Regions from separate parts of the Homo sapiens genome. Here all the other regions are linked to region 4. Evidence: fine-mapped expression QTL. A gene starts in region 4. Each other region holds a variant in brackets. All regions are shown on one strand. Distances are between the middles of the regions.

Region 1 (5,884 bases), 520 kb before region 4:
TGGATTTTCTTTTAAAGAAGTCAAGTAAAGAGAAACTATCCTAAGGGAGCGGGAACAAAGGCGGGACTATTCTGACTCACTCACCTCTGTGTTGATGGTGCCCTTTGGCGTCAGTTTCAAAGTAATTCATTCACATCTGCTCGGCAAGTACACATTGCATGCTCATTAATTCCAGGTGCTGTTAGGGTTCCCGGGGATGCAGCAGTAAAGAAAGCAGAGTTCCTGACCTCATGGAGCAATACTTGCATGTGGGAGGAGACAGATGTGGCAAATAAGTAAATATATAGCACATCAGCGGTGATAAGTAAGTGAAAAAAACGAATGGTGAGGGGGGTTGGGCCTGCCTGGAGGGCGAGAGGGCGGGGGAAGCCATAGTTCTGCTTTCAGTAGGGTGCCTGCAGGATTCTTCCATAAGGAGACATTTGTACCCAGACCGAAGGGGAAGGGAGGGAGCAAAGGTTGTGGTATCTGGGGGAAGAGCCCTCCAGAAGACAAAGACCCTGAGATGGGAGCATACTGATGGGGCCTGCAGGGACAGCAGCCGGGGCAGGGAGATCAATGGAATGGGGAGTGAACCAGGCTGTGTAGGGCAGAATATGGGGTCTTGTAGGCCACTGAAAGCATTTTTCTATTTTTAAATTCTGAGTGAGACCTGATGCGATTAAGGGATAGGGCACAAGACAGTTACTAACAAGAGGCACTAGGATGCTAAAGACTCATGGAGACTAGGCTGTAAGGGACAAAGTCCAGACGTGGGGAGCCATTAGGGGCTGTTGCCCATCCTGAAAGATGATAGAGGCTTGCGGGGGATGGGGAGGGAGGTGACAGGAAATGGCTGGATTCTGGATATAATTGAAGGCAGAATCCACTGGATTTGCTGGGAGATGAAGAGTGGGGTTTTTCCTGAGCAGTGGAGTAGATAATGGCTCTATAATCAGAGAAGGTTTTCGGCAGATGCGTTTCAGTTATCTACTGCTGAGTGACAAACAAACCAACCATCCTGCACTTAGTGGCATGAAACATCAGCAATCATTTGATTTGCTCACCAGTTGCAGCCTGGGCAGGGTTCGATGGGGACGGCTGCAGGTGAGATTAGTTAGGGCAGCTCAAAGGTTGGCTGGAGCCATCTGAGGCTTGTTACTCACACGTCTGGCTGTGGATGCTGGCTGTCAGCTGGGCCGTCAGCTGCGATGTCAGCCAGAACTCCTGCACCTCCTCGTGTTGGGGTTCACTCCCTCATGGCATGGCGGCTGGGCTCCAAAAGTGGCCTCCCAAGAAAACAAGATATGAAGCAGGTGACATTTTCATGCCTTTGCCTCAGAACTCCCATAGTCTCATTTCTGCTGTCCTTTATTGCTTGAAGGAGTCACGAAGATTGGTCCGAGTTCAAAGGAAGGAGACACGGACCCTGGCCCTGGATGGGAGGGTGTCGATGTCACATTGTAGAAGAACATGTGGGATAGGAGGTATTGTGCCCATCTTTGGTCAATGTCGTCTGCCACGTGAAGGATGCAGAAATCAAGATTTGTAGAGCATAAGCTGCTTGTTAACTATCACAGAGGGATGTTGAGTTGGCAGATGGATGTATGAGTCAAGAGAGGTCAAGGTTGGGGAAATACACGTTGGAGGCTTTATTATACAGTTGATATTTAAAGCCACCTGGAATGAGGAGAGACGTGGTGGTGGGAGGAGGAGGAGGAGAGGAAGGAGGATCAGGATAAGAGAGAGTTTATTAAGCATTGCATTTTTTTTTTTTGAGATGGAGTCTCGCGTTGTCACCCAGGCTGGAGTGCAATGGCGCCATCTTGCCCCACTGCAACGTCCGCCTCCCAGGTTCAAGCGATTCTCCTGCCTCAGCCTCCCCAGTAGCTGGGATTATAAGCACATGCTGCCATGCACAGCTAATTTTTTGTATTTTAGTAGAGACGAGGTTTCACCGTGTTGCCCAAGCTGGTCTCGAACTCCTGAGCTCAGGCAATCCACCTGCCTCAGCCTCCCAAAGTGCTAGGACTACAGATGTGAGCCACCGTGCCCAGCCACATTGCATAATTTTTATTGAGTAGCTCTATACTTAGCCTCGTGGGAGGTACTTTGCACAGCTTAGAGCAAGATGAAGGCCTCCCTGCCCCAGCCCCAGCCCACAGTGAAGCAGGCCTCACTCTGTACCACCATAGAACTCGGCTCAGTTTCTGACTCTGTATTTTTCTCTTGCTCCCCGTGCCCCTGGTGCTGGAGCGCTTAATTAGATCTAACAAGGTCTCTTTTGTCCTTGTGCTTTGGAGTGTCTTCAGGCTTTCCCTGGATAATGATAGCCAAAAGTATTCAGAGTTTTAGAAAACCTAAAACCTAAAACCTTCAAAAGGGCAATGTTGAGAAATAAAGAAATGAATTATTCCATTGTTAAGCAACTCATGTCTGAGTAAGAGAAAACTTGAATTTATGGTGGTTAAAGTATATGTGAGATATTAAAAACAAAAGAGAGAGAGAAAGAAAAAAAACCCAGAAAGCCATTTTTTGATCCTCAAGAGATCAGATGAAGTTTCTATGTGAAGCATTGAGAGATCTTTATTTTATGATAAGGCTAAATGCCAGATTGTCAAAAAAAGGGTCAAATATAAACTTCTTTGCATAATACGTAAATCCATTAATAATCTGACCCTTTCTTTTCCAATCTCCTCTACTAGCAACCTCCAGTATATTCTGGTTACCCTGCTCCAAAAATGCTCTAAACATGCCATGCCTGTGTACTACTTCCCCATGGTTTATTCTCCCTCTCCATTTCTGGCCAACTCCTACTCATCCTTTAAAACTCAGCTTGAATGTCATCTCCTCTACAAAGCAGGTGGTTGTAGTCACCTCTATTAGTGTTCCCATCTTTTGTATATACTTCCTATGATTCTGATCACATTCTGCTTAATATCTTATCACATCCTGTCATGTATATGCTCATCTCCTCTAGCAGTCAGTTTTTTAAGGGCAGTAAACCTGGGTGCTTTTTTGTTTTTTGCAGTCCCAGTCCCAGCAGTGCTGAGCAACAGAAGAGATAAACACCACAGTTTTTAGGAAGTTCAGTTGC[A/T]TAAGAGATGACAGTAGAGGCCCCTGCATGTCTATTGCAGACAATTACTTACGGGCTCACAAAAGAATATTCTCTGGTTTTGCCCAGTGGGATGCACTGTCCTACAAAGGCTGAAGATTTTGGGGAGGCAACAGACACACCAAACAGACTTCCTTTTCTATATCTTTCAGTTGCTGACACTATTAAGAAATAGAGACTGGGCATGGTGGCTCACACGTGTAATCCCAACACTTTGGGAGGCCGAGGTGGAGGATTGCTTATGACCAGGAGTTTGAGACCAGCTGGGCAACATAGTGAGACCCCATCTCTACCACATACACACACACACACACACACACACGCAAATTAGCTGGGCGTGGTGGCAAGCCCCTGTAGTCCCAGCTACTCAGGAGGCTGAGGTGGGAGGATCACTTGAGCCTGGGATGTTGAGGCTGCAGTGAATCATGATTGCACCATCGCATTCTAGCCTGGGAGACAGAGCAAGACCTTGTCTCAGGAAGGAAGGAAGGAAGGAAGGGGAGAGAGAGAGAGAAAGAAAGAAAGAAGGAAAGAAAGGAAGAAAGAGAGAAAGAGAGAGAGGAAGGAAGGAAAGAAAGAAAGAAAAGGAAGTAGAGAAAGAAAGGAAGGCAGGCAGGCAGGCAGGAAGGAGGAATTCCCTTCTGATTTGGTAGGAATTAGAAGATTCCTCTACTCTATCATTGTCATTGTAAAACATCTCTAGAGTAGTTGTTTGAGGCACACAAACTCCTTTCCAACATGATATTACAATACCCAGATTTCTGGTGTCAAGCCACATGTCAGTATGAACGGTCCTGCACAGATGACGTGTTCAACTTTCATGGTTGTCTCTACCTTCCATTCCAGCCTGCTCCGCCTCCTGGATTTTCCAGAAACCTCTGGCTTCTCCCTTCTTCCTCAGGGGTGTGTGGCTCTCTGGTGGGGAATTATCAACCAACATAGTGGGAGATGCTGAAGCCCGAGCGATGAGCAAAGTGAACACAGAGCACTGGGAAGCTGAGGTGCAGATGCACGAAGGGAAGAAGCTGGGAAGAAGCTGGAGGAAAGGAGTGAAGGAAATAGGATGATGGAGCCAAAACTGGGACTAGGGAGGCCAGACCTGGGAAAGAAGGTGGGAGCTGAAGTGGGGATCCTGAGGATGTTAACTGAAAAACCACGAGATCTATAAGCAACTCTTTAACCGAAAGGAGAGACTCTGCTGGTAGAAGTTTACCTGTTGGGGGTGACTCAGGCAGAGCTAAGCTAGCCCTGCAATGACTCCAAATGATCCTGCAAGGTGGGGGCAGACACAGGAGAGGAAAACAGCCCCATCCTGGCCTGCTGGTCAAAGCACACACGTGTGCTCTCTTCTCTCCCTCCCTCTCTGCTCTGTCTCTCTCTCTCCCTCCTTTTCTCTCTGTTTCTGTCTTTCTCTCTCTGTACCTTGGCAGCTAACCTGGCATTCTGAACTCCACCCCCAACCCTGTCGGTGCCTCTTTTGACCCTGAGTAGCTCTTTTCTCTCTTTCCCTACTTCCTACTTCTTACCACTGCCTGGAGAGGTTATTCTTAGCCACTTGCTGAACAGTTACTTGTTTCATTTAAACAAACAAAAAAGAAACAAAACCTGCCTAATGTGGCAGTAGACTTGAATTTAAAGAAAATGTATTTCAAACTGGGAAGAAGAGAAAAATTTTTTCTTAAATGCAACTTATTTTCATTGATTCTGAAAGCAATACATATTTATTGTAGAGAGAAATTGGATTGTACAGAGAAGCACAAAGAATAAAATTATAGTTATCCATTATTCCATGGTCAGAGATAACTGGAATTAACATAAGGATATTGCTTTGGCTTGAATGTTTGTGTCTTTTCCAAAATTCATGCTGAGGCCGGGCGCGGTGGCTCACCCCTGTAATCCCAGCACTTTGTGAGGCTGAGGCAGGTGGATTGCCTGAGCTCAGGAGTTCTAGACCAGCCTGGCCAACATGGTGAAACCCCAACTCTACTAAAAATACAAAAAATTAGCCAGGCGTGGCGGTGCATGCCTGTAATCCCAGCTACTCAGGAGGCTGAGGCACAAGAATCGTTTGAACCTGGGAGGCGGAGGTTGCAGTGAGCTGAGATTGCACCACTGCACTCCAGCCTGGGTGACAGAACGAGACTCTGTCACAAACAAACAAACAAAACCAAAATTCGAGTTGAAAGATAATCCCCAATGTAACAGTATTAAGAAAGAGGTGAGGTCTTTAGGAGGTGATTAGACCGTGAGGACTCTGCTCGCATGATTGGATTAATGCCTCATAAAAGGACTTGAGGGAGCCAGTTCAGCCCCTTCTTCTCTTCCACCAAGTGAAGACTCAGGGTTTGTCTTCTCCCTCAGCAACAGGGTGCCATCACAGAAGCAGAGAGCAGCCCTCAGCAGACATCAGACATGCTGGTGCCTTGATCTTGGGCTTCCCAGTCTCCACAACTGTGACAAATACACTTCTATTGTTGATAAATTACCCAGTCTGTGATATTTTGTTACAGCAGCACAGACTAAAACAGAAATATATGCTTTTTAGCCTTCTACACACACACACACACACACACACACACACACATTATTGGGATATAGTGTATGTATTGTTTCATAATCTACTTCTTTCACATGAACACTTTATGGTGAATGTTTTTCCATGCTAATATTTTTTCCATAAAGATATTTTAAATCATGACATAGTATTCTATTTGAACATATCAAAACATTTAATCTACTATTATTGGACATTTAAGATATTTCAAAAAAAATTTTCTTTTTGCTACTAGC
Region 2 (5,884 bases), 290 kb before region 4:
TAACTGCATTTAGGCTGGGAACGTAATGCCATTCCTACTGCAGTTTGAAATTTGTGGGCTGGCATGGAAAGCCATTGCATGGGGCCTCTCACACAGCACTCAATAAACTCTAACAAACCTCATGATAACCTGTTTCTACATGTGGGACCATTTGTATCTTTCAAAGATCTTCCATGGAACTCTCTGGAAATACTAAAATAGAGATCTTTGTAAGGGCCACTGCACTTTAGTCTGGGCAACATAGCAAGATCCCATCTCAAATAATAATAATAATAATAATAATAGTAGAGGTCTTAGAATCTGAGAGTGGAATTCCAACCCTGGCTCTGTCATGGCACAGTGTGACTATATCACACACAGCTGCTCTGGGTCCTGCTTTTAAGATGTGTACAATGAGTGGCTTGCCTAGCGTTGCTGGTTTTCTAATAAACCCTGACCACACAGAGGTGCCTGGGGAGGAGGAAGGGAGGGAGAGCTCTGTGCTGTCCTTCCAGCTCCTACAGAAGAATCTGTCTTAGTCAGGCCTCCCCATAAGATTTCATTTGAAAGAAAGTTTTGCACTTAGAAAGTAAAGCTCAAAAGCCACAGGACTAGGAGAGAACCAAGACCTTCCCAGCTCTAACATTCTGGAACTGAGCGCCAGAGCCTGGCATGTGACAAGCTGGCATTGCATTCCCCTCAAAGATGTCACTTAGGAAAAAGCTGACTCACTCATAGGAGTTAAATGGATTCTTCTAAGGGAAGACAAGACCAGTAGCTAACTCATTACTGAGCAGGCTCAATAACACTGATTGTCAAAGGAGCACGTCTACTGGTCGCAAAGTGCCATATGGCTGATTGCGTCTAATAAAATGAGCTCATGTTGAATTGACAATCTGTATATGTCTCTGTTGTCCCCAAAAAGACAGCTGAAAATGATTGAGGGCTGCAAGTATTTGGTGACTGCACCATGGATACAGTAATTTAACTCAGCTGTCACTAAGCTTGTGCCAGATTTGGCCTAGCAGACATTTTTGTGTTGATGGGGCGTGTTTCTTGGTGTGTCTCACTACAGGTGATGGGGTCAGTCCCAGCTGAGGGGTCCACATGGACTCCCCAGCAGGGGCAGTGTATGGCTGTGAGAGCTGCTCACACATCTCTAAGTCCTCATCCATTCCTTCTGTTCCCACGCCCTGCCCATCTCCTCCCACCAGATACAGTGCCAGGTGGGGAAGGCAAGTGAGGACGGTGGGGAGGGGGGTGCAGTGGCAAAGGCCCCCCAACACAGTCTGCTTTGTGACTTGTGGCTGGAGGACTCCACCTAGCACCTTCCTTCTGAGCTGAGCTCCAGCCTGGGCCCCAGTTGCCCCGAGTCCTGGTTAGAGTTCAGAGCTGCAGCTCAGGGTGGTAGCTGCAAGCCCCATGCGGCTACTGAGCACTCTAAATGTGGCAATTCCAAACTGACACTGAATTTCAAGCCCTTGGTACTAGAAAAAGAGACTATAAAAATCTTACAAATTTTATACGATTACATGTTGGAATGATAATGATTTTTATATACAAAGTATATTGCTAAAGTTAATTTCACCTGTTTCTTTTTATTATTATTACTTCTTAGTTAGCCACTAGAAAATGTAAGATGACGTGTGTGGCTCACATTATAATTCTGTTGGGCGCCACTGATCTAGAAAGAATTCGATTTGTAAAGGGGCCCAGATGGACCATTTCAGGGGATTCGGCAAGTGTTTGCCGAGCACCTTCTGTGTGCAGCTCATCTGCCGCACAGATGGCTGTCTGAGCTGCTGGGGGAGGTGGGAGGTGGGGTCGGAGCAGGGAGCTGCCCCATTGGAGGAGCGTGGGGAGCAGTGCCCATCCCTGAGCTGAACCACGGACATCTTCCTCAGGAAGCACTTTGAGTATCTGGGCCCAGCACAGCCCGGAACCCTCCCAGTACCTCTAAGGTTACAAGTAATTGTCTAAGGCCTACGTTATTCCTGCACACCCAAACACAGCCCTCAGCATCTCATGGGAAAAGAGAGCCTTATCTCCAAGATGCACTTTGAAGTTTAAAAATAAAAGTGGGGGTGACCAGTGCAGTGCTGGTTGGCCTCAGCCCATGATGGGGGCTTGGGAGAGTTTTCTTCTCTTTCTTCTCTTCCTCCCTCCCCTTCCTCCCTTCCATTCTCCTCTCCTTCCTTCCTTTCATCCTTTCCTTCATTCCTTCCTTCCTCCCTCCCCTTCCTTCCTTCCATCCTCCTCTCCTCTCCTCTCCTCTCCTCTCCTCTCCTCTCCTCTCCTCCCCTCCCCTCCCCTCCCCTCCCCTCCCCTCCCCTCCCCTCTCCTCTCCTTCCCTGCCTCCCTCCCTTTGATGCTTAAGACTCAGCACAGGAAGAGAGAGCTCCTAGGAACATGAAAGCTGAAGATAAACCCCAAAGCCTCCTTTGTCTTCCCTTAATCTGCTTTAAGCTCCCACCAGCTCAAGCCTAATTGAGTTAGTTCTTGAGTGAAAGGGAGCTTTGGTGATGTTAAACTGTTATTTAATCACAAGTGGCAGGTGGGATGTGGGGCAAAGGGCAGGAAAAGTGGGTCTGTGGGAACGTAGAGCTGAGCAAAGCCTTCCTTCCTCCCCTCGCATCAGGGAAG[G/A]CCCGCGATGCCCTTTCATTAGTATTTCAGCCAGTGTTTTCCAAATTGCTGACCATAAACCGTTAGGGGATTGGGAAATCAGTTTCGTGGATTTCAACGAGCATTGTTGAAATGTGGGGGGTGGTGCGGCCTGGGAAGAGTAGAACAGAAAGTAACAGAAGGCTTTGCAGGTAGTGAAAGGAAGTATTGCTTCCTGAAACTTTTGACTTAGATGTGAGTCAGCTGTGTGTGCATGTGCACTTAATTGCAACAGAAAATGCACTTTTTGCTGTGGGTCATGAGCAAAAAAGTTTGAAAGCTTCTCTCTGATGCTCCTAGAAATAGAGTCCCTTCTGTGCGTGGGTCAGGAGAAATGATAAGCAACAGAGGATGGGGAACAGGAATCCTTGGCTGTGTGATAGAAAAGGCTGTGGGGAGGTGCGAGGTGGGAGGTGGGAGAAGCAGCAGGGTCTGAGTGCCCGGGCCTGGGCAGCCTGTTAAACTTCATGGCCCCATGGTCTGTTTGCTTCTGCACCTGCAGCAGGGAGCAGAGGCCAGGCCCCAGGGGGCACGTGGCTCCACATTCTGAAAATCAAATTAGTGGACAAGGGAATGGAAGGCCTCTTTGAGGGGCTCTGTGCCACATGTATTCACCTGGGATCGGGGAAGGAAGGATGACAATGGAGAGAGTGTTCTGGGAGGAAATTCAGTTCTCACCTGAGTAGACTGTCTGTGGGGGGCTTTGCAGATGCTCAGCGTTGCAGAAGATGACGTTTCTATTTCCACTGTTAAAGAACCCGTCTTGGCCAGGCGCAGTGGCTCACACCTATAATCCCAGCACTTTGGGAGGCCGAGGTGGGTGGATCACGAGATCAGGAGTTTGAGACCAGCCTGGCCAATGTGGTGAAACCCTGTCTCTACTAAAAATACAAAAAATTAGCAGGGTGTGGTGGCACACGCCTGTAATCCCAGCTACTCGGGAGGCTGAGGAAGGAGAATCACTTGAATCCAGGAGGCGGAGGTTGCAGTGAGCTGAGATCGTGCCATTGCACTCCAGCCTGGGCGACAGAGCAAGACTCCATCTCGAGAAGAAGAAGAAGAAAAAAGGAACCCCTCTTATTCTTTCGCCATTCGTATTTTATGTGTATAACAGTCAATATTATGATGAGCACTGGGATTCATACTAACTCATTCTATTGCTAAAACAATTTTTTCACTGAGCTTTTTCTTTTGGTGCCTCTTAAATAATCTCACTATTAAGCCAAAAAAATCAGAAAGTGAGCTATTTGGGAAAAAACAAGCACAAAGATGAACTCAACCCTGGTTGAAATATAGCCCTGGGGAAGGGAACTACTTGATCTCCCAAAGCACAAAGATCGGCGACTTTGTAGCACTTTGAGTGTCTGGGCCTGGCAGGCAGCTCTGAATGTTCCTGTTGCCTCTAAGGTTACAAATGATTGTCTAAGGCCTATGTTACACCTTCATACCCATGTACGACACTCAGCCTCTCATGAGAAAAGAAAGCTTTATCTCTAAGATGAACTTTGAGGTTTAAAAATAAAAGCAGGGCTGCCGTTTCCCAGGGCCACTGTTGAGACTGCGCAGAATGGGCTATTTCTTTACAAATAAACAAGCGTCTTACAGGCTGACCAGCTAACTGGCATTTCAGGTGGCTGAAACTTTTCCTTTGAGGCCTACCCAGGTGAAGGGACATTTACTTGGGTTTAACATGTTTGCATCTGAGGAGAAATTTTTAAAAGCATTTTTCTTATGGAGAAAGGGAAACATTTTGCTATTTATTTATTTATTTATATTTTAGAGATGGAGTCTCACTTCGTCACCCAGGCTGGAGAGCAGTGGCGTGATCATAGCTCACCGCAGCCTCGACCTGGGCTCAAGGAATTGTCCCAGGAAACTGTTCTTTTCAAATGGCGGGGAGACAGAAAATGCTGATGATCCACAGTGCTGCTCAAGTTTAGAATGCAACAAAGAAACAGCCAGTTGTTGTGAAATTATTCGCCAATCATTACACACAATGACAGGAAATTATTTATAGAAAAAATCCCAACATAATTTCTTTCCCCAGCATCCCAGGGGACAAACCAGGGAAGGTAGTGCAGGAACAAGCCCAGCAGTGAGCTGTCACCTGTGGCACTGCTCAGCCACCTGCTGTGTCTTCAGTAGCTTCCCCTTCAGGCATGGGGCTTTCTTCCTGCCTGTACCTTAGTGTATCCCAGCAGGATGAAAGCACTTCTGAGACAGATGTTTCTGGGTCCTAGTGTTTCTCTTTGCCCTGCCCTGGGTTTAGTATGCACACATCCACACTGGCGGTTGCTCCTAGCCCCCAGGGCCTATGTCCTGCGACCCTTCTTGGCCTTTACTTCTCATGGCATGAAGGAGGGAAAGGCCCAAAGAAGCGAAGGCCCTGCATGAGCTAGGTGGCTGGGGAGGGGTTGAGCAGGCTCATAATTAGGAAGATGACAGACAAGGATGCTGGCATCCTTCACACTGATGTGCTGTGTAAAGTCCGGCTCGCAGTGTGACCCTGTCACCCCCAGAGGACCAGGACCATTGAGCGGCACCTTCTGACTGGCACAGCTCCTTTGAGGCTCTCAGAGGCGCAGGTTTTCCTCCAGGCCTGGTGGCTCTTCCTGGAGGGGATGGTGCTGCCATCCTCTCTAGCAGTCCAGGGTCTGCACCGTGGGCTTGGTGGGGCCCAGTGTCCTCGGGTCACAGCTCTCAGCAGAATTCTGCTTCTCTGCTGCCTGTGGTAGCTCCTCCACCAGGACCCAGCCAGTGCCAGGAGGGTGGAGTGGGTCCCGGAGGCAGGAACGGGGTAGCAGATCCCTGGAGAGCTGAGCCTGAAGGGACCATGGGCCAGCTTGGGAAGTAAAAAGAACAGTAGAGAGGCTGGAGCCCAGGTGTGGGTCTCAACTGTGGGTCTCAGGACAAGCGAGGGGGTATGTCCCCAGAGGGATGGGAAAGTGGGCCCAAGGCTGAGTGAAAGCACATTGCCAGGAAGAGCCAGGGGACGGAGAGGGAGCCAGAGAAGCAGAGGATTCATCTGCTGTCCTGGGAACCTGTGAGTCACTGCTGCTGAGTCATCAGAGCTGCCTAGAAGCTGCTTGGTTGAACCCAGGAGCAGAATGGGAAGGACCAGAAAGGAAGTTCTTCTCCTTCTCCGGGACCCTGGAAAAGGATCATGGGCGTGGCTGGGCCAGGCAGCACCATGAGGGCATCAGCCTCAGGTGGAGCAGGTCCTGGTCAAAGAGCTCCGTGGTCC
Region 3 (5,884 bases), 52 kb before region 4:
AAAATAATTTAAGAATTTTTTTAAAACACTAAAAAGAGAAGCATTGCAAAAAATAAGAAAAAGTTAGGCATGTCATGAATGCATAAATATATGAATTGGTCAACTGTTTATGTTATTGGTAGGGCTTTGGTCAGCAGTAGGCTATTAGTCATGAAAATTCTGGGGAATCAAAAATTGTACTGGGACTGTGCTGAGGGTCGGCCGCCATAACCTGCATGTTGTTCAAGGGTCAACTATACTCAAAGTACTGAGAATGCAAGGATAAATAGGACAAGATCCCCTGTCCGGCTGGTATCTGTAGTCCAGTCGGAAAAAGACACACTCGTAAATAGATCATTTGGCCACTGAGCAACAGGAGCTGTGAGACAGGCTGTGCTGGGCAGTGGGGCTGAAGAGTGGATGAAGGATGGGGGAGCAGTGGAGAATCTGCCCTGGACAAGGAGACTCCAGGACACAACCTAAAAGACCAGGGAGATGACTTGACAATGAGGGCCTGAGAACACATGGCGCCCAAGACACAAAGTCCAGAGCAAAAGGATGAGAGCGGGCCCCATTAGAGCGCTGTGGAAATGGCGGTAACTGCCTGCAGCACAGCGGAGCACAGAGGACAGAGGGCAGCTGAGCAGGGAAGTCGGCACCAGGCAGGGCTGTCACAGTAAAAAGTTTGCTCGGGAACAATATTAGGGCTTCAGCAAGGGTGTGACTTGGCAGATTTTATTTAAGATACAGCCATCATCACTCAGATAACTATTGGGAAAATGGAGTTGAACAGAGTAAAACAAGAGATAGATCAGTCAAGAGGCTAAATACCCTAGACAGGAGAGAGATGGCAGGAGCAGGAGGGTGGGAGAAAGGGATGGAATTGGACTGGAAAATATTTAGGAGGTGAAGAGTGAATGTGAGAATTAAAAAAAAAAGGAATGGTTCTAGATGACCTGAGTTTATGGTCTGGGGACATCTTTGACAGAGGCAGGTAATATCGAAGGAGGAGCGGATCTTGGGAAAATGGTGACTTGGGTTTTGAACATGTTGCATTTGACAGGTCTATGAGACATTTAAGAGGCACAGCTAGAAATGTGAGTATGAAACTCAGAGAAGATAGATCCGAGATGGAAATTTAAACTGAGAATGGGCACCACCGCCCCATGAGACAGTACAGTGAGGAGAGCTCATGCCACACTCAAGGCCAGGGAGAAATGGCCAGAAATGTAGAAGCAGAGATGGAAGCCATGTCAGAAGCCAGGGTAGAGGAGTGAATGACAAGGCCAAATGTGGAAGAGAGGACTGAGAGGCGTCCCCTGGACTGGCCAAAGGGAGCTCACTGGTGACGTTGGACAAGCAAGGTTGAGTGTCGTGACTGAGTGCACTGTGGGTAGATGGGTCTTGAGCTGGAGGTGATGAAGAGGGGAGAGCAAGGACAGATTCATTGTTCTCAATGCTGGTAGAGAAGGTAAGACCACAAATAAAACAGTAGCAACAGCGGACATTTCTGTGCTGTTGTACTTAGGATTGGAGAAATTTGAGCCTCTGTTGATGCTCCGAAAGAATGCTTCAAAGCTAGCACCAGGAATAGTTGGTAGGATTAGGGCTACAAGTGAGAACTTTGGTGCCTAAATCCAATTTCTTATTCATATCCCAGAATGAAAAAGAATACTAAGAGGAGAATGGGACTGAAGCAGGCAGATCATCTCTAAGAGGAAATAGGATGTACATTACAGTAAAACACATCCTACGTAAAAAGGAGACTGCATAATTCTCTGAAAAAGTTGGCAGTTGTCTAGATCTGGGTTCCCAAGGAGTGGGGCATGTCTACCCCAGATGGCAGCTGAGTGCCATGCCAGTTTCTCATGGCATGATCAAGAACTCGCTGACCCTACCCCATGCTTGCTAGAGTGCAACCTCCTGCCTGCTCCATCTGCAAGGGTGTTGATCTGACCAACATCCTTGGTCAGATTTTCCAATTACCATTTCAAAGGTAACTGTGAAAATCATTTCTTTCCTTAATACTGAATACCTTTTTTTCTCACTACCATTCCCCTCTCCCCCCTGGCCTTCGGGGCAAGTGTCTTTGTGGGGTGCCCTGAAAGAACAGAGCAGTTGAGCATGGTGTCTAAGAGCCTGGGACCTGCAGCTAGAAGGCTCCACTGTCTATTGTTGTGGGACCCCAAGCAAATCATTTTATTGCTCAGTGCCTGTTTCCTCAGGGAGTATAAATACTACCGGCAAGGCACTTAGAACACCGTCCAGGACTGGGGCTCATAGGAAGTCCTCTGTCTCTGTTAGGCTATCATTCTGCCTCTGACCTGGGGATCTGCAAATTTGATTCAGTCCCTGCCTGCCTTTCCAACTGACACCATGAACCCTGGTTAAAGTAGAAATCAGATACCAGTTTTCAACTCCAGTTTGATTTCCCAGTACAGACAGTTCCCCACTGAGATGCCAGTGGGTGAAATATAACCAGCTTCCTCCATAATTAGTTTCAGTTATTACACCATCTTTCTGGGTAATGAAATTATTCCTTGTCCTTATGGTTTTTACTGACAGCAATAAAAAATTATTTTCAGTCTTATTGCTAGAATTCTTTGGGTTCAGTCATAGGAATACAATTCCCTAGAATAATCAAATTAATTCATTATCTTAGTATTTTACATATTTTTTACTCTAGGGGATATGAGATTGTTGCTATTTGACTATTTCTGACTGACAAAATGAGTATTTCATATGATTCAACCTAATATTTTCAACCACTGATGGAATTTCTATTTATGCAGGTGGGGTGGGGAAAATGAATTGTTTGCTGTCTAAGATAACAATAGAATTCCTTTTAGAGAGGGAACTATTTTTTCTTTGGG[G/T]AAATACGTCAATGGACATTTTGTTTTTGCAGAAGATTAGAGATGAGAGAAGACTAAAAGGAGCAAAATCGCTCTGCTCGATCTGAAGATCTCAGGAGTTCTTGTTTTGCTTTTGTGATGGGGAGAGTGAGATAGGGAGGCCTTGTTAAGCTTCACCTAAATCTACCTCCCAACATATTTTAGGTTTGGCCTAAAGGTTTCTCTGTACATATGAACTGCAACCAAACTGGATATGTAAATGAACTGTAGCCTACTCTTATGCCAATCCCTGAGTTTTGGTCAATCAAAGGCAACCAACTGTTCAAACCAGGATCAAATAAGGCGAACACCAGGCTGTAACCAATCCGGCTGTTCCTATACCTCACTTCTGTTTTCTGTACATCACTTTCCGTTTTCTGTCTATGAATAATCTTTGATCACAGGGCAGTGCCAGGGCCTCTGTGAACTCCTCCTGGTTCAGCAGCTGCCCAACTTGTGAATCGTTCTTTGCTCAGTTAAACTCTGTTAAATTTGTCTAAGGTTATTATTATATCAGCCTAGGCTGCGAGAAAGTGTAGGCCCTGGTGCTAAGGAGGAGGCTGAACAGTGATGCGTGGTGTGGCTACATCATGGCAGAGACGCTTGACGGGGAAGCCTCAGAGCAGCCACATCCCCCACACACTCAGCTCCAAGTTGTGCTCTCCATCTCCACACCCACCCAGCTTTCCTTACTGGCTTAGTAGCATTTCAGGGACGTCAGTACCAGAGTACTGTCTACACTGCAGCTGAGAGAAAGGGCCCTCTTATGGGATGGGACAGGACAGGACAGAAGGGGCACGAGAAGCAGAGGTTCACACTCAAATGCAAGCCTTCCTTGGGGCTGCTCAGAAATAATGCACGACCTGGCAGGCGTTGGCCATCCTGAAACTTCACACATGCAGTTCTAGGAGTTTGGGAGATTGGGCAACATCTGGAATTGTTCACTCTGAGAACGCAAATCATCTGCACCCTTGAAGCTTACTGTCTACATTAACGTGACTTTGCTCTTACATGAAACACTTGTCCAGGAAAATAAAAGCTGCAAATAACTTTGTTTGTTTCAGGAACTTTCTGGAAGAATTCATTCAAATGATCATTAAACGATGAGACTTTTCAATAGATAGCATCAGTGACTATTTATACCTCAAGGTTCTTTGAATCCCTTGCCTCAAAACCCTCACATTACCGCATCCACCAATCCTCATACTATAAACCCCTCCCCTGCTGCACTGAACAGCCTCTAAAACCCAACCCCAAAGCCTCATAAGTACCCCGACTTGGATGCCCCATCTGAGATGCTGCTATTCAGACTATCAGGGCAGGGCTCTCCCAGACCACAGTAAGCAATGAATAACTTCAGCTTATTGACAGGTTGTAGGAGGGTATTTTTAGGGAGCTGGATTTTGCTTGGAATAGGTAGGCCAGGTGCTGGGGATACGAAGGCGAACAAAACTGAACCCCTGACTTCACAAAGCTGATGTTGTGATGCAGCAGACACATTAAACAACTCATCACAAGTAGTTCAATAATTATTTAAGCACGACTATGGTACATGCTACAAAAAAAACTACAGAGCCCCAGGGGAGTGCAGCCTTGACTGGTGTGGTGGGAAGCAGGGGCTTGGGAAGGAGCAACAGGGGTGCCTGCAAGGGAGGCAGAGGAGGTTACAACACAGACCTGTACAGACTACATCGCTCATTTCCATGGTGCAGCAGGGGAGGGCCTTAGGCTTATTAAAAGGGAGCCTGAGTTTGTAAAGTGGGAGAAACACTGCCCTAGCCCACAGGGAAGGGAATGCAAAATATGAGCTGTGCACCAGAGTGCCTCAGATGGGAGGTTGGTGCATGACCAAGGAAGGCCTGGGGAACAGGGTTGATGCCGACGCCGCAGGACTCAGCAGAAGTGAGCCACTGAGTGCTTACCTGGTTGGGGGATACATGGCTGAAGGGGGATTCTGGAGCTAAGTGAAAATTCATATGGGCCTAGGCTTGGGAGGAGGAATCTTGGAGGGAATGTAGAACAATTGCCATATGGTGCCCTGGGAGGAGATGGAAGGTGAGGGCAAGGGAGGGTGTGGTTTTAAGTGGCCTTAAGTCATTCCTGAATTCCAGAGTCTAGAAGATCATAAAGGTAGAGGCTGGTGCCCCGGGGTATGAGAGATTACAACCAGTTTCGTCACAGAATGCAAGAATTGGCCTCGAAAATTCAGGGACAGCTGGTCAATAGAACTGGGCCACTAGGTCTAGATTGACTTGGATACAGCAAGGGAGAAAACCCTACCTTAAATGTGGGGTTCATTCATGGAATAGTAGGGATGAGGCAGGAAAAGCATGCCAGAACTGGAGGGAGGAGAGATAGCCACAACTTTCTGTGGACCATTGGGTTGGGGCAGGTGAGGAGCATGTTAAAAGCCATGTGTTAGCAAGGGTTATCTGGCACAGGAGGCAGCTCTGCTCTTCCCCAGGCTAAAACAAATCACATCTTCAGCAGGATGGGTTGCAAGAGGACTGTGACAGGCAGGGAGACACTCCATGAAAGGCTGAATCCCTGGGGTCTCCCGATGGTACAGAAGGTGTGAAGTAGAGGAGGGGTTACTGAGGCCACATGTGGAGCCTGGGTTCCTAGGAAAGTGAAGATATTGATGACACAGCAGGAAGCCTGGGGGAAGCGGGCTTGGGGAGGTTACAACATCCTCAGCTTGGAATGTGCTGAGTGTGAGGTGGTGGAGGATGTAAAGTCCAAGCAGAGATGGACCATAATGAGGCCCAGAGATGTATCTGCTTCTCCAGTGGACCAGATGCTGACGGAGCCCCAGGACTGGCTGGCTTGCTCCTTGGTTCCCGCAATACCCAGCACCCGGTCTGTGTGCAGTGGCCTCGGTCAGTGTCTAATGTGGCTGCATCGAGCGTCCAAAAGTGGCTGCAGAGGTAATCATGGCGATCTAGTACCACCCACCACATTAGATGCTTGTGTGCATCTCCCCGTCGTTGGGAAGTAATAAGCACTTACTATCA
Region 4 (5,884 bases):
CACTGAGCTGTAACGTGATACTGACCTGTCCGGCAGTGTCACAGAGTTGGAGTCTCACGGGCCGCCCATCCACAGACACCACCGCTTAAAAACAAAACCAAAATGACAATCAGGAGGTGTCTTTTAACCCCTTTCGGAATACTAATAGTTTTAGCTTTCACTATCATTCTCACTCCAAACCCCTTTGCTCCTATTTTAGGTCCTCTAATGAATTAAAGACTAGCCAAAAACAAGGAGGCCCTGTGGAGGCATTTTTGTATACAAACCCACGGCTGGCAAGTCACTCCATTACCGTGAACCAGGCAGCAAATCCCTGAACGCTTTGATGGTGACCCTAAAAAGGCCTATGCTTTTCTCCCAGTCCTGGAAGATTTATTTTCCTGTCACACTTGTTTCAAAGGACCTAAAAACAACACTGGGGGTAAATGGGAAGCAACCCTGCAGTTTTAAATCAGTGGAAAACCTCACAAATAATTCTGTTTTCCCTTGGGAAAGGTTCCCCAACTTCAGGGTTTATCATACAATTCTAGTGTGTTTTGAGAACATGTGCAAACACAGGCTGCCCGCATTGTCCTGTTTAAGAAATGAGGGCACTCCTTATCTCTATGTCAGGTCAAAAGGAGGATTAAAAAAGAAAAAAGAAAGCCATGGCCCCCTTTCCACTGGGATCCGGGGACTCGGGGAGTGTGGAGAGGCCTGCAGCAGGACATGTTGTGGAGGTTTCTATTTTAATTAAGCAGTCAGTTTTGTCTCTTTCTACACAACTTTCTAATTGTTTCTAAATATTTATACTAGTCAGCTGCAGGGGTGGGGTGGGGGGAGGGGAAGAAACAATACCCTGCGGTGGGAACCCACCAGTACAGCACCCATTTCTCTAAGGTACCTTTGGGATGAAAGGAAGGTCAGAGAAGCAATTTTTTTTTAAAGAAGCAAGACAGTTAAGTGTTTCATACTAGTTTCTGTGAATTTTAACTTTTTCTTAAATTTCAAAAAGACCTGAATAGCAAGATAGAGAATTCCTTTCTCTTTGTATCTACCAAGGGAAATGGCATCGCACCCGGTACATAGGAGCTTTAAGTAGCTTAAAGGGATCCTGAAAAGATACCAACAATCAGAATCCGAGCCCATGTGGGCAGGGAAGGTGGTGGGGCTCAGAAGAAAGAAATGGTGTTTACTCTTCAGGTTTCATCCAAACCTAAGCCTTCACGAGGGCCGCTCGCGCTTTTTCACTAAATCAAGTGTTTTCCCGGCGTCTCCGCGGCTCTTTAAAGCGGAGACGCCCCTTGTGAGCTGAGCCGCCTAAAAGCAAAGGAGCGACGCTCAGGTAAAGGCACCTGCGCGTCACCTTCTGATTGAAACTCTGCAGCGGCGCCAGCGACGTCGCCCTCAGGAAACTTTGCTCTATGCAACAAACTGACCGGGCACCCTGAACTCAACCTGTTTCACTCCTACTTATCTGTTGCTTAAATTGTGAGATTTTTTTTTTTTTTTTTTTTGGCAAGGCTCTGACTGCCGCTCCGCCCTCCTCTCTCCAAGCCCACTCCGCCGTGGTCCTTTCGTGTTAGCTCCGCGCTTGCCCGGTCCCTGAGACTCAGGAAACGTCCTGCACTCCTCATTTGTCCGGCTTCCCAGCTGGAGCCGCGCCCGGGGCCCTGCAGCCCCCTTGGGAACCTCGCGACCCTCGCGCCACCTTCCTTCCCCTGGGTGGACCGCGGCCACGCGCCCCCGGCCCCGGCCCCCCGGCCAGCTCACCGGAGAAGTTGTCGAAGGCAGTAGGGATGTACTCGGTGGGGTAGCCGTTGGTGGTGTAGCTCACCACCAGGCTCGTCTTGCCCACCGCGCCGTCGCCGACCAGCACGCACTTGACGCCGCGCCCCTCGGCACCCCCCGCACGCCCCCGGCCCCCCGGCTCCCCAGGCCCGCGTCCCCCGCGTCCACCGCGCTCCCGACGCGGCGGCACCGGAGGCGCCTCGCAGCGGTCGGGGAACGCGGGGTCCCCCTGCTGCGGGGGCATCGATCCGCGAGCGCGGGCTTGCGGTCGCGGGCTAGCAGGGCCCGGCCCGACCGCCCCTCCGCCCCGGAGGGTTGCGGTAGGGAGGAGCTGTCACCGACAGCTGCGGGCGCGTCCCCGGCCCTGGAGAGTGGCGGTTCCGGGCCGCACGGCCAGTAGACAAAGGCGGCCAGGGAGGGTCGTGGCTCCGCGCTCCGGCGGCGCCAGCCGCTCTGCCCTGCGCTGTTGGAGGACAGCGGTCCGAGCGCCGTGGATCCCAAGCGCTCTGTCTCCGCCCGGCTTCCCGGCGACACGACGCGTGGGGGGCGGGCAGGCGGGCGGGCTGGCGGGGAGGGAAAAGAGGCGGGTCTGGCCGAGCGGCTCGGTCCCCGCGCCAAGACCACAGCGCCCCCCGCCTGCGCGCCGCGCGCCTGCACCCGCGCCCGAGGCGCCGCCGCGACCAGGCGGGGACTGCGAACACTGGCGCGGGAGGACCTGGAACACACGTTCCGGGGGACCCCGCGCACCCGGTCCGGGAAGCGACGCCCGAAGGAGCCGGGCCAGCCTCCGCAGCCTCCTCCCCAGCTCCCAAGAGGGTGACCACCGCGCGACTGGCCCGGGAGGTTCCGCTTTCTGGCGCCCACGCGAGCCAGGAAGCCTGAGCCGCCTCCTATTCACTCCGTGGAGCCCCCGGCTGGCCACGGCTCCACCCAGGGGGAAAAATGAAGTGTCCTGGAGGCCTGTCCTGCGAATGAGATTGAATTAACAGACAGCTTTTTTCCTTAAGTCTAACTGCAGCTGATCGTGTGATTTTTTCTCATTTTGAAGCAAAAGGATGCCAGCTCCATTGTGAATGCTCCTTTGACTTTGTCTTTCGGCATGCCGTGAACCTTTATACATGTATGCTCCAGAAATTTTTTTATACCCCCAATTCCTTCATTTACTTAAAGGTAATTCGGAGACATTAATATGTCTGAAAAAATATTCCGTTTCCCTTTGATTCATTTCTCTCTCTGCCTTCCTTCTACATGTGGTCAACAGTCTATTCAGAAAAAGGACGCCTCTTAGCCAAGTCAGAATACCAAGAGTCCTGGGGGTGTACAGCGTGGTGTGAGAAGGGCCACATATTATTAATACACATTGATACTAGTGGTAGTAAAAATAACAATAACAAATACTGAACTTTCATAATGTGTCAGATACTGTTGTAAGCACTCTTCAAGAACTAATTCTTTTAATCTTAACATTACTTACAGATGAGAACACCTGAGGCACAGAGATATTAAGTAACGTTTTGGGATTCCACAAGCTAGTAAGTGGCAATGCCAGGATCCAAACCCAAATAGTCTAGCCCCAGAGCCTGAGCTTCTAACCAAAATCCTGGAGGCAAAAATAAGTCAGTATGATAAACGTAATCTTGAACGTATGGCCATGGTCAGAATGCAGAGATGGATTTATCAAGAAGTTAGAAGCTTGAATCCAGGACCCCTGACTTGCAAAGGACACTTTCACATTGGAAGACCTAGCAATGTGTACACGTGGTAATATGTTTCTGTAAATTTTGAAAAAAAAAAAAGTATTTTAATCACCACCAGTTATGTTCACTGTCTTTTTAAACTGTAACTTACCCTCATATTGAGTGACTTTGAAGAGGCCATGAAGATTTTGGGGATCAGCCAAAGAAAGTGAAGTTGGGGAGACCCAAACAGGTTGTTTGGGTGTAATGGGATACAGAATCAGGATGAAGGTGAGATAAGGGGGATGTCAAGGATGCAAAATTTATGACAAATTGAGCATTCAGAGGCAATATCAAAAAACAACAAATTTAGAGGGCCCTTACTCTCAGGGTCAGGCAAGTGCCAATGTTAAGTTTTGAGCCTCAGGTACCTGACTTGCCTCTCCCTCGCCCTGGCTGTGATGACAGGATATATTTATGTGGTTTACAGTTCTCCTATGTAGATATGTTGTTGCTAGCCATCCAGGTATAGGAATGGCTACCACTGACATACCTATGACCCTCTGTGAGAGTCACATTGGTGCCCTTAACTGTCTTACTTTCCCCAACACTAGAAGGGTTCCAGTAGCAAGAGTAGCAGAGCTTGAGATGGGCAGAGCTGGAAGCTAGTCTGGCAATTCTTTCCATCATAAAGCACCTAATATCGGCTGGTGCGGTGGCTCACGCCTGTAATCCCAACACTTTGGGGGGCTGAAGCAGTCAGACCGGTTGAGGCCACGAGTTCGAGACCAGCTTGGCCAACATGGCGAAACCCTGTCTCTACCAAAAATAAAAAAATTAGCCAGGTGTGGTGACTCACACCTGTAATCCAAATACTCCAGAGGCTGAGGTAGGAGGATCACTTGAGCCTGGGAAGTCGAGGCTCCAGTGAGCCCTTGATCAACCAATATACTCTAGCCTGGGCGAGAGTGAGACACTGTCTCAAAAAGAAACAAACAGAAGAAAACACAACATTGTTAGAGAAGGTTTGGTTCTCTCTACTAAACCTGATCAAAACAGAAGTTGTCTGCTGTCAGAAATGTACCTGTACTCTAAATGCAGCAGATACACTTACAAATGCATCATACATTTTTGGAGAAAAATCACATGAAATGAATGATCTGAATTCCCATGTTTGTAAGGACATGAGGCTGTAGTAGTACAACAAAAAGCAAGTTCACCTGTGTGTGAAGTAACTTCCTATTGTTCTTATAGAAAATATCTTACAAAACTGAAGAAGTGATCAAAGGGTATGCAACTGAAAAATGAAAATAATGTCATAGAAGTGTGTCAAGCAGTTTATTAAAATGTCATGTCTTATGTATTTTGTTTAAGTTTATGGTGTTTGTTAGCCTTTTAAAATTTGTAACTTATTGTGATGCATTTCTCACTTTAAACATTTGTTTTTGTATCTAATTTTCTATTCTTAATTTTGTATTTTTTTTTCTTAATGAAGTCTCACAAATGTGATAAGCCTCAGGCCCTACAAAACTTGGCTTTGCCCCTCCATCTGGCCAGCTGTCAGTTTTTGTGTCCTGTGCGTCCCCCTCTTGCTTTTCCCCTTCTCATGCTGAATATCATCCCACGCCCACTCATTTGGGCCCGTTTTTCTGGACACAACTTAGTCAGCTCCCTGCATCCTTATCTAAAATGCCGGGAACTAATGTTTGCCCTATTCATGAGACTCTTCTGTAGGCAACATAGGAAATCAGACCCCACGCCAAACAGTTCGGTATTTCATCCAAGTCCAAAAGCAGAGAGATGACAGAATGCCTACCACTTTACCCCTTTACAGAATGCCTTTACTTTACCCCTTTTTACGTTGAACTGTCCCGCACCCACTCATTTGGGTCCATGTTTCTGGGCTCGACTTAATCAGTCCCCTACAGCCTTATCTAAAATGCTTGGAACTAATGCTACAAGAAGCCCTCCAAGGTGTGTGGGTTCAAGTTGTATGATATATTTGTTTGTTTATTTGCTTATTGTCTGTCTCCTCTTACAAGCTCCATGAAATCAGAAACTTAATGTTGCTCATTCCTATATCCCACACTTAGAAGCACGTGGGGCAAGTAGTAGGTGCTTAATAAATACTTAAGCAGTGGTAAATACGTAAGTGAAAGGAAAACATGTTTTGAACTTGACGGTTCTGCAAAAAAGAAAGAAAGAAAAGGAGAAGAATGTAAAACATGGACTCTCAAAACATGGACAGTTGTATTTTTATGCTTTTATAAAATATTTTTAGAATGAATGAAGGAAATTTGACCACTTCTTGCAGCTATTAATAGAAAACCATGTCTTTGCTCAGTTTTAAGACAAAAAATGCATTACACCTCATGTATTCCCATTTGTTTTTCACCAAGACAGTACAACGCCTTCATTGTGCAGTGGGCCTAGAAAAT
Region 5 (5,884 bases), 31 kb before region 4:
TCTAAAATAAAATCATCTCCCCTCAATCATAGCCAGTGCCTCCTCCTGACTTTGTATTTCTGCCCCTGGTGCAGTTATCTTCCCTTTCCTGGCTTAAAATCTTAGTGTGATTGTTGAGCACAGCTTCTGCTGTGGTCAATCATTTCTAGAGATTCCACCCACAATGTGACATTGGCACTCACCTTTTCATTCCCATGCCCCCCTCTCTCGAGCTCAGAGCCTCCTCCCCTTCTGTCTACACCACGGTGACAGATCCTGACTAATCTCCTGCTCTCTCTTCACCCTTCTCTTCTCCTCCAGGTATCTGTTTCTAAACTGAAGACCAGATCAGTTCTTTTTTCTATGTAAACTACCTTCTTGTTCTACCACTGGTCTTCCATAGTCTGGTCCTTCCTCATCTATCTGTCCAGTCTTATTTCCCATGAGTCTTTCACCTCAATTCCACACGTCAGATATCCCTGTTAGATCTGTTTTCCACGTACTTGCGATTCTTTGTAATAGAGTTACTCTTCCTGTTCTGCCTTAACCTCTTGTCTCCTTCTCCAAGTGGCAAGTTCTGGCACCTCTTCAAGATCCGGCTCAAATGTCATCTCCTCTATGAAATCTTTACTGACTTGTCCTATTCCAGGCAAAATTAATCATTCCTTCTTCCTTTTTCAATTTAGAAAAAATCACATTCATTCTTTAATGTTTGACTCAAGAAAGACCTCTTATGTTCCTTCTTTCTGTATTAGTTTGACAGGGCTGCCATAATAAACACCACTGACTTGGTGGCTTAAACAACAAAAATGTATTCCTCACAGTCCTCGAGGCTAGAAGTGTGAGATCAAGGCGTTGGCAGGTTTGGTTTTTTTCTGAGACCTCCCTCCTTGGTTTGCAGATGGTCACCTTCTCCTGTGTCCTTACATGGTCTTCCCTCCATGTGTGTCTGTGTCCTAATCTCCCCTTCTTACCAGTCCTACTAGATCAGGAGCTACCCATATGACCTCATTTTACCTTAATTACCTCTTTAAAAATCCTGTTTCCAAATAGAGTCATACTCTGAGGTACTGGTGGTTAGGACTTCAATGTATGAATTTTGAGGGTGCACAATTCAGCCCAAAACATCTTCCTTCCTTCCTTTTCTCCTTCTCCTCCTTATCCTTCTTCTCTTTCTCCTTCTCTCTCTCTCCCCCTTTTTCTCTTTCTTTTATATAAAAAAGATAAATTGATCCCTGAACTTTCAGCAGGAATAAAGAGCAGTAAAGACTTGGCCCTCGTCCTCAAGCAGTATCTAGTCTCTCACAGGGGACAGACATGGGACCGAATAAGCCCAAGCTCCCTTCAGAAGAAGCCAACAGCCTCTGTGGCACTCTCTCAGGGCCCCATGCCCCAGGTTCCAGTGCAGATCCAAGCATTGTACTAGAGTGCCTCGTCTAGCTTCCTGTCACAGGGAGAAATTGTGAGCTTCTGAGGTCAGGGCCACCTTAGTCATCTCCAAATTTACAGTGCCTTGAAATGTACCTGGTACATAATAAATGATAAACAAATATTGGTTGAATTGAACCCAAATAAATTGATATTATATTTTTACTCCTGAAGGGTTTTTTGCTGATGGATTAACTTTTTCATCAGACTTAAACAAGGGACAAGTTTCTTTGTTAAAGTCAGCAGCTCGAAAGTGATCAGTTAGATGGCATTTTGCAATTCTTTTTCTTTTTTTTAGAAACAGAGTCTCACTCTGTTGCCCAGGCTAGAGTGCATGGCTCACTGCAGCCTTGACCTCCTGGACTCAAGTGATCCTTCTGCCTCAGTCTCCCAAAATAGCTGGGACTACAGGTGTGTGCCACCATGCCCAGATAGTTTTTTTTTTTTTTTAATTTTTTATAGAAACAGGGTCTTGCTATGTTCCCCAGGCTGGACTTGAACTCCTGGGCTCAACTGATCCTCCTGCCTCAGCCTCCCAAAATGCTAAGATTACAGGCATGAACCACCCGTAATTTGCTTTTTAAACTGATAAAAATATAAATTAATATCTTTGAAAAGGCAATGTTTCTACAATTTTTTTGGGAAAATGACTTCTGAGTTTCCTTCTATTTAGGAATCTCTCAGGTCTTTCCCACTGCAATAAGTTGTGTATATAAAAATTATAACTGCAATAACAAATTAATATTAGTTGCATTTTGATGTGAACCAAAAATAAAAATAAGCCTCATACTATGTGAAGGTGATAAGCAAGGAGAATCTTACAAAGACTTGAAAATATTTTGAGAAAATAAAAACTGCAAAATTAGAAGCATTCAACTTAATTATTACATAAAGTTTAAACAACTAATGAGTAGTGTTAATGGTCCGTTCTAGTTTAAGGTTACTGGTGACAGTATTTGTAACTGGCTGTTGGGTCACGTGAATGATCTACCATAATTGGCAGACAGAAAGTCCCACTTTCCTTTTACTTTGGAGACTAATGGTAATTTTCCCCCAGCCTCATCTCTATCTCCTGTCTTGGAGTGAGGTTCTGTAGAAGGTCTGCGTGTGACCGCTTGTGGCTGTCGGTGCCTTGCTGTAGCCTTCGAGGTGGAACCCAAGCTGGGCGCTGCAGGAGAGGAAACAAGGCCTCACTGAGGGGCAGAAACCAGGAAGCTGGGCCAGCCACGCCCTGAAGACTCTGCTCCTCTCTGTAGAAGTAGAGACCAGGTGTGACTTCCCATGGGGTGG[G/A]GGTGGTGAGAGTTGAGACAAACTGTCCCTGAAAGTGAAGAGGCCCCAGGCGGAGCACCTTGCACTCTGGAAGAGTGACACAGGACCCACTGGAACTAAAACTGTAATGTGATGAGATGTTGTCAAAGCAAAGTAACAACAACAATAAAAATACTAGTAGGCACTTACATAGCACTATGAGCCGGTGTTCTGGCAGATTTACTTATATATTAATACATTATGAACTATGTTTTTGTTTAATAGGACACACTTATCAGTTGCAAAAGACTACTAATGCCTACATTTTTCTGGCAAGATGTCATTTTCCATTAAGGCTCTATAAGGCTGGGTGTAGTGGCTCACATCTGTAATCCCAGCACTTTGGGAGGCTAAGGCAGGAAGATCATGAGCTCAGGAGTTAGAGACCAGCCTAGGCAACACAGCAGGATACTGTCTCTACAAAAAAATCAAAAAATTAGCAGGTCATGGTGGCTCCTGTAGTGGCAGCTACTCTGGAGACTGAGGTGGGAGGATCACTTGAGCCCGAGAAGTCAAGGCTGCACTGAACTATGATGGTGCCACTGCACTCCAGCCTGGTTGACTAAGCAAGATAGTGTTTCAAAAAAAAAAAAAAGAGAGAGAGAGAGATAGAAAGAAAAGGCTCCTTTAAATCCAGCCTTCAGCAGATGAGGGGGCTAAAACGGGCATGCCTTATATTAAGAGGGCTATTAGGGATTGCCCAGAAAATCTTTTTTTTTAAGCTGTTTTTGCCACATAATTAAGCTCATAAAATTTTCTTTAAAGAACCAAATAGGTTATATAACCAAAAGCCAAAGTCAAGTGATTCTTATGAGCAAACAACATATAGTTAATCCACAAAATTATTTTGGGACCTCACACTGTTATAAAGTTTTTCCTTACACAGAAACAAAAGCTTCTTCCCATAACATCCTTCTTTATTCTTTATATCTCTTTCGACAGCTCGAAGTGTGTTTGGTCCTCTGAGAAATCTCTGACCAAATGCAGCAGTCATTTGCCCTGGGTGGTGCCTTTCCTCTTTACTAAACCTAATCAATTCTTCTAACTCTTAATTATGTGAAATGTATATAGAGTATATGTTTATATAAAATATATGTATAGAAATGTGTACTGTGTAGTTTAGCAGTGGATGCTGTTTGCATGGTTACACAAGTACATGATGCATTGATAATTCATACACAAGAAGTTCTTTTGGGATGGACTCTGGTAGGCGGAATGGGAATACGCTATACAGCTGATCTTTGAACAACAGGGGTTTGAACTGCATAGGTCCACTTACACACAGATTTTTTTCTATACGAATTACACAGACTGCACTGGCCTCTCCTGCCTCCCCTTCCACCTCCATCACCTCTTCTGCTTCTGCCACCCCTGAGACATCAAGACCAATCCCTCTTCTTCCTCCTCCTCCTCAGCCTACTCAACATCAAGGCGAAGAAAAGGAAGACCTTTATGATGATCCACTTCCACTTAATAAATAATAAATATATTTTCTCTTCCTTTTGATTTTCTTAATAATATTTTCTTTTCTCTGGCTTACTTTATTGTAAGAATACCATATATAATACATATAACATACAAAATATATGTTAATTGGTAAGGCTTCTGGTCAACAGTAGGCTATTAGTAGTTAAGTTTTGGGGCAGTCATACATGGATTTTCCACTGCGTGGGGGTGTTGGTCTCCAAACCCCACATTGTTTAGGGGTCAACTGTACTGGCAGTGCTGGCCTGTTTTCTCCTTGGGGTACAGTCAGCATGCATGTCATTATAGTTTTACTTTCTCCCAAGTGTATTTCATTGCTTCAGTTTTTTGTCTTTGGTTTGAATTTCTTTTTTCATCAGAATTTATAGACCATCTGCAAAGCAGTAACTTTGGAGGGATTACAATGCTTCTATCAGTCAGCATCCCAGCTGGAAAGAGATGACGCACTCAAAGGGGTCACTGAACGGACTTAAATTGACAGACTATCTAGAGAAACCAGCACAGGATTGAGGAGACTGACAAGCTATGGTAAAGCCCCAGGAATCAGCAACAAGGGAGGCCTTTATCACCCGTCAGCCTGTTGGGAAGTGGCAGGCAGGGGACAAATATGAGAACTCAGAGATCTGGCTGTGAAGAGGGGCTGCTTGCAGGATCTGAGACTCTAGAAGAGAAACAGATTTCTCTTAGGGAAGGAGCAGGCAAGAAACCCCCAACCTCTCTCCACCTTTTCCATCTCCCCAGTTCCTGCTGCAGACCAAACCTTGTGAAAAGCAGAAATCTAAAAGATGAAGGGGGAAGAAGTTAGTCTTCCAGGCCACACAGCAGGGTCAGTAGGGGTCTGGAGGGGCAAAGAGAAAATCCAGGTCTGCACAAAATGCAACGAGAGAAGCATAGTTTCTCAGAGAGCGGGCACTGTGCACTCTGCATCTTTTCATGACCGTATCTAGTGTCTAGTGCAGGGCTTGACACCCATGACATTCTCAACAAGGGTCTTACTGAATCCGCGAACAGATCAGAAGTCAGTTGTTCCTGAAATAGAAGGCATTGTAACTGACAACAGAATACAAATGAACTGTGGCTTTTTAAAACAACCACATATTACTATTATCTAAAACTTACTCTTCTAAACAATGTCTTTATTAATCAGCTAATATTAAAGGAGAATCTGATAACTCTGATTTTTCTTTCCATCAACCTGTCCTTAAGCTGCACACAGAAAACTGTCTTCAGAAGGGAGTTTCTGATGTTGTTAAGCACCTAAAATTTGTGTAAGCAAATAAAAGAGCAAAGCCCTCCTAAATAGAGTATCAAGTTTGCAAGACTTGGCCACGGGAGGCCAATTCCAGTTCTAGTTCTGATTCTACTGCTTGTGCTCCCTGGAGTAGGTTACCTATACTCTGCATGCCTCCATTTCTTCAGCAAAAATAGGAGTAATAGCAGTACCTGTCTCTTAGACACTCATTTCTATTAACTGTCCTGCCTTCACCAAACGCTATTATATAGCACACTGCATGTTTCAGTCAGTCAATAACTTCTATTGCTTCCAACAACTCAAAATATCTTGTTTTAATCTGTCATTGTTGGTTCTCTCTAATTGATCCCCTTGCCTGGTTACTAGAATCTACCTTTCTGTCTAGCTTACATGAACTGACACTTTGGCTCTGTTCTTTAGTTTTGGAGATTG

Which allele goes with the higher level. Positions count from the first base shown, and alleles are read on the strand shown. Sizes are in standard deviations (SD) of each study's normalised expression. Not every link is listed here.
In carriers of allele G in region 3, the expression in monocytes after LPS of the gene that starts at base 2,278 in region 4 tends to be lower than with T alone (large effect, 1.7 SD a copy in Fairfax 2014).

The links. PIP is the estimated chance that this variant, and not a neighbour inherited with it, causes the effect. A credible set is the group of variants that fine-mapping cannot tell apart.
Region 1: its variant is the best candidate, but not a certain one, in a credible set for the expression of RHOU in whole blood (TOPMed, PIP 0.54).
Region 2: its variant is the best candidate, but not a certain one, in a credible set for the expression of RHOU in whole blood (TOPMed, PIP 0.83).
Region 3: its variant is the best candidate, but not a certain one, in a credible set for the expression of RHOU in monocytes after LPS (Fairfax 2014, PIP 0.54).
Region 5: its variant is the best candidate, but not a certain one, in a credible set for the expression of RHOU in whole blood (INTERVAL, PIP 0.69).

The regions. Positions count from the first base shown.
Region 1 is chr1:229,247,683-229,253,566 of GRCh38, reverse strand. It overlaps TMEM78 (transmembrane protein 78), which reads right to left and starts at 3,931. Exons shown (of 1, transcript NR_172940.1): 1 at 1,757-3,931. The region is part of intron 1 of LOC102723935 (a long non-coding RNA gene); the gene reads left to right. It overlaps LOC124904540 (a long non-coding RNA gene), which reads right to left and starts at 217. Exons shown (of 2, transcript XR_007066924.1): 1 at 85-217. RefSeq lists an enhancer at 1-669. The variant A/T (reference allele first, on the strand shown) is at 3,077.
Region 2 is chr1:229,024,630-229,030,513 of GRCh38, reverse strand. No RefSeq gene overlaps it. Among named protein-coding and RNA genes, the nearest start is that of LINC02815, 130 kb to the left of the region's middle. RefSeq lists an enhancer at 2,253-2,990. The variant G/A (reference allele first, on the strand shown) is at 2,623.
Region 3 is chr1:228,783,484-228,789,367 of GRCh38, reverse strand. No RefSeq gene overlaps it. Among named protein-coding and RNA genes, the nearest start is that of RHOU, 51 kb to the right of the region's middle. The variant G/T (reference allele first, on the strand shown) is at 2,853.
Region 4 is chr1:228,731,873-228,737,756 of GRCh38, reverse strand. It overlaps RHOU (ras homolog family member U), which reads right to left and starts at 2,278. Exons shown (of 3, transcript NM_021205.6): 1 at 1,753-2,278; 2 at 26-84. The coding sequence starts at 2,014.
Region 5 is chr1:228,762,505-228,768,388 of GRCh38, reverse strand. No RefSeq gene overlaps it. Among named protein-coding and RNA genes, the nearest start is that of RHOU, 30 kb to the right of the region's middle. The variant G/A (reference allele first, on the strand shown) is at 2,698.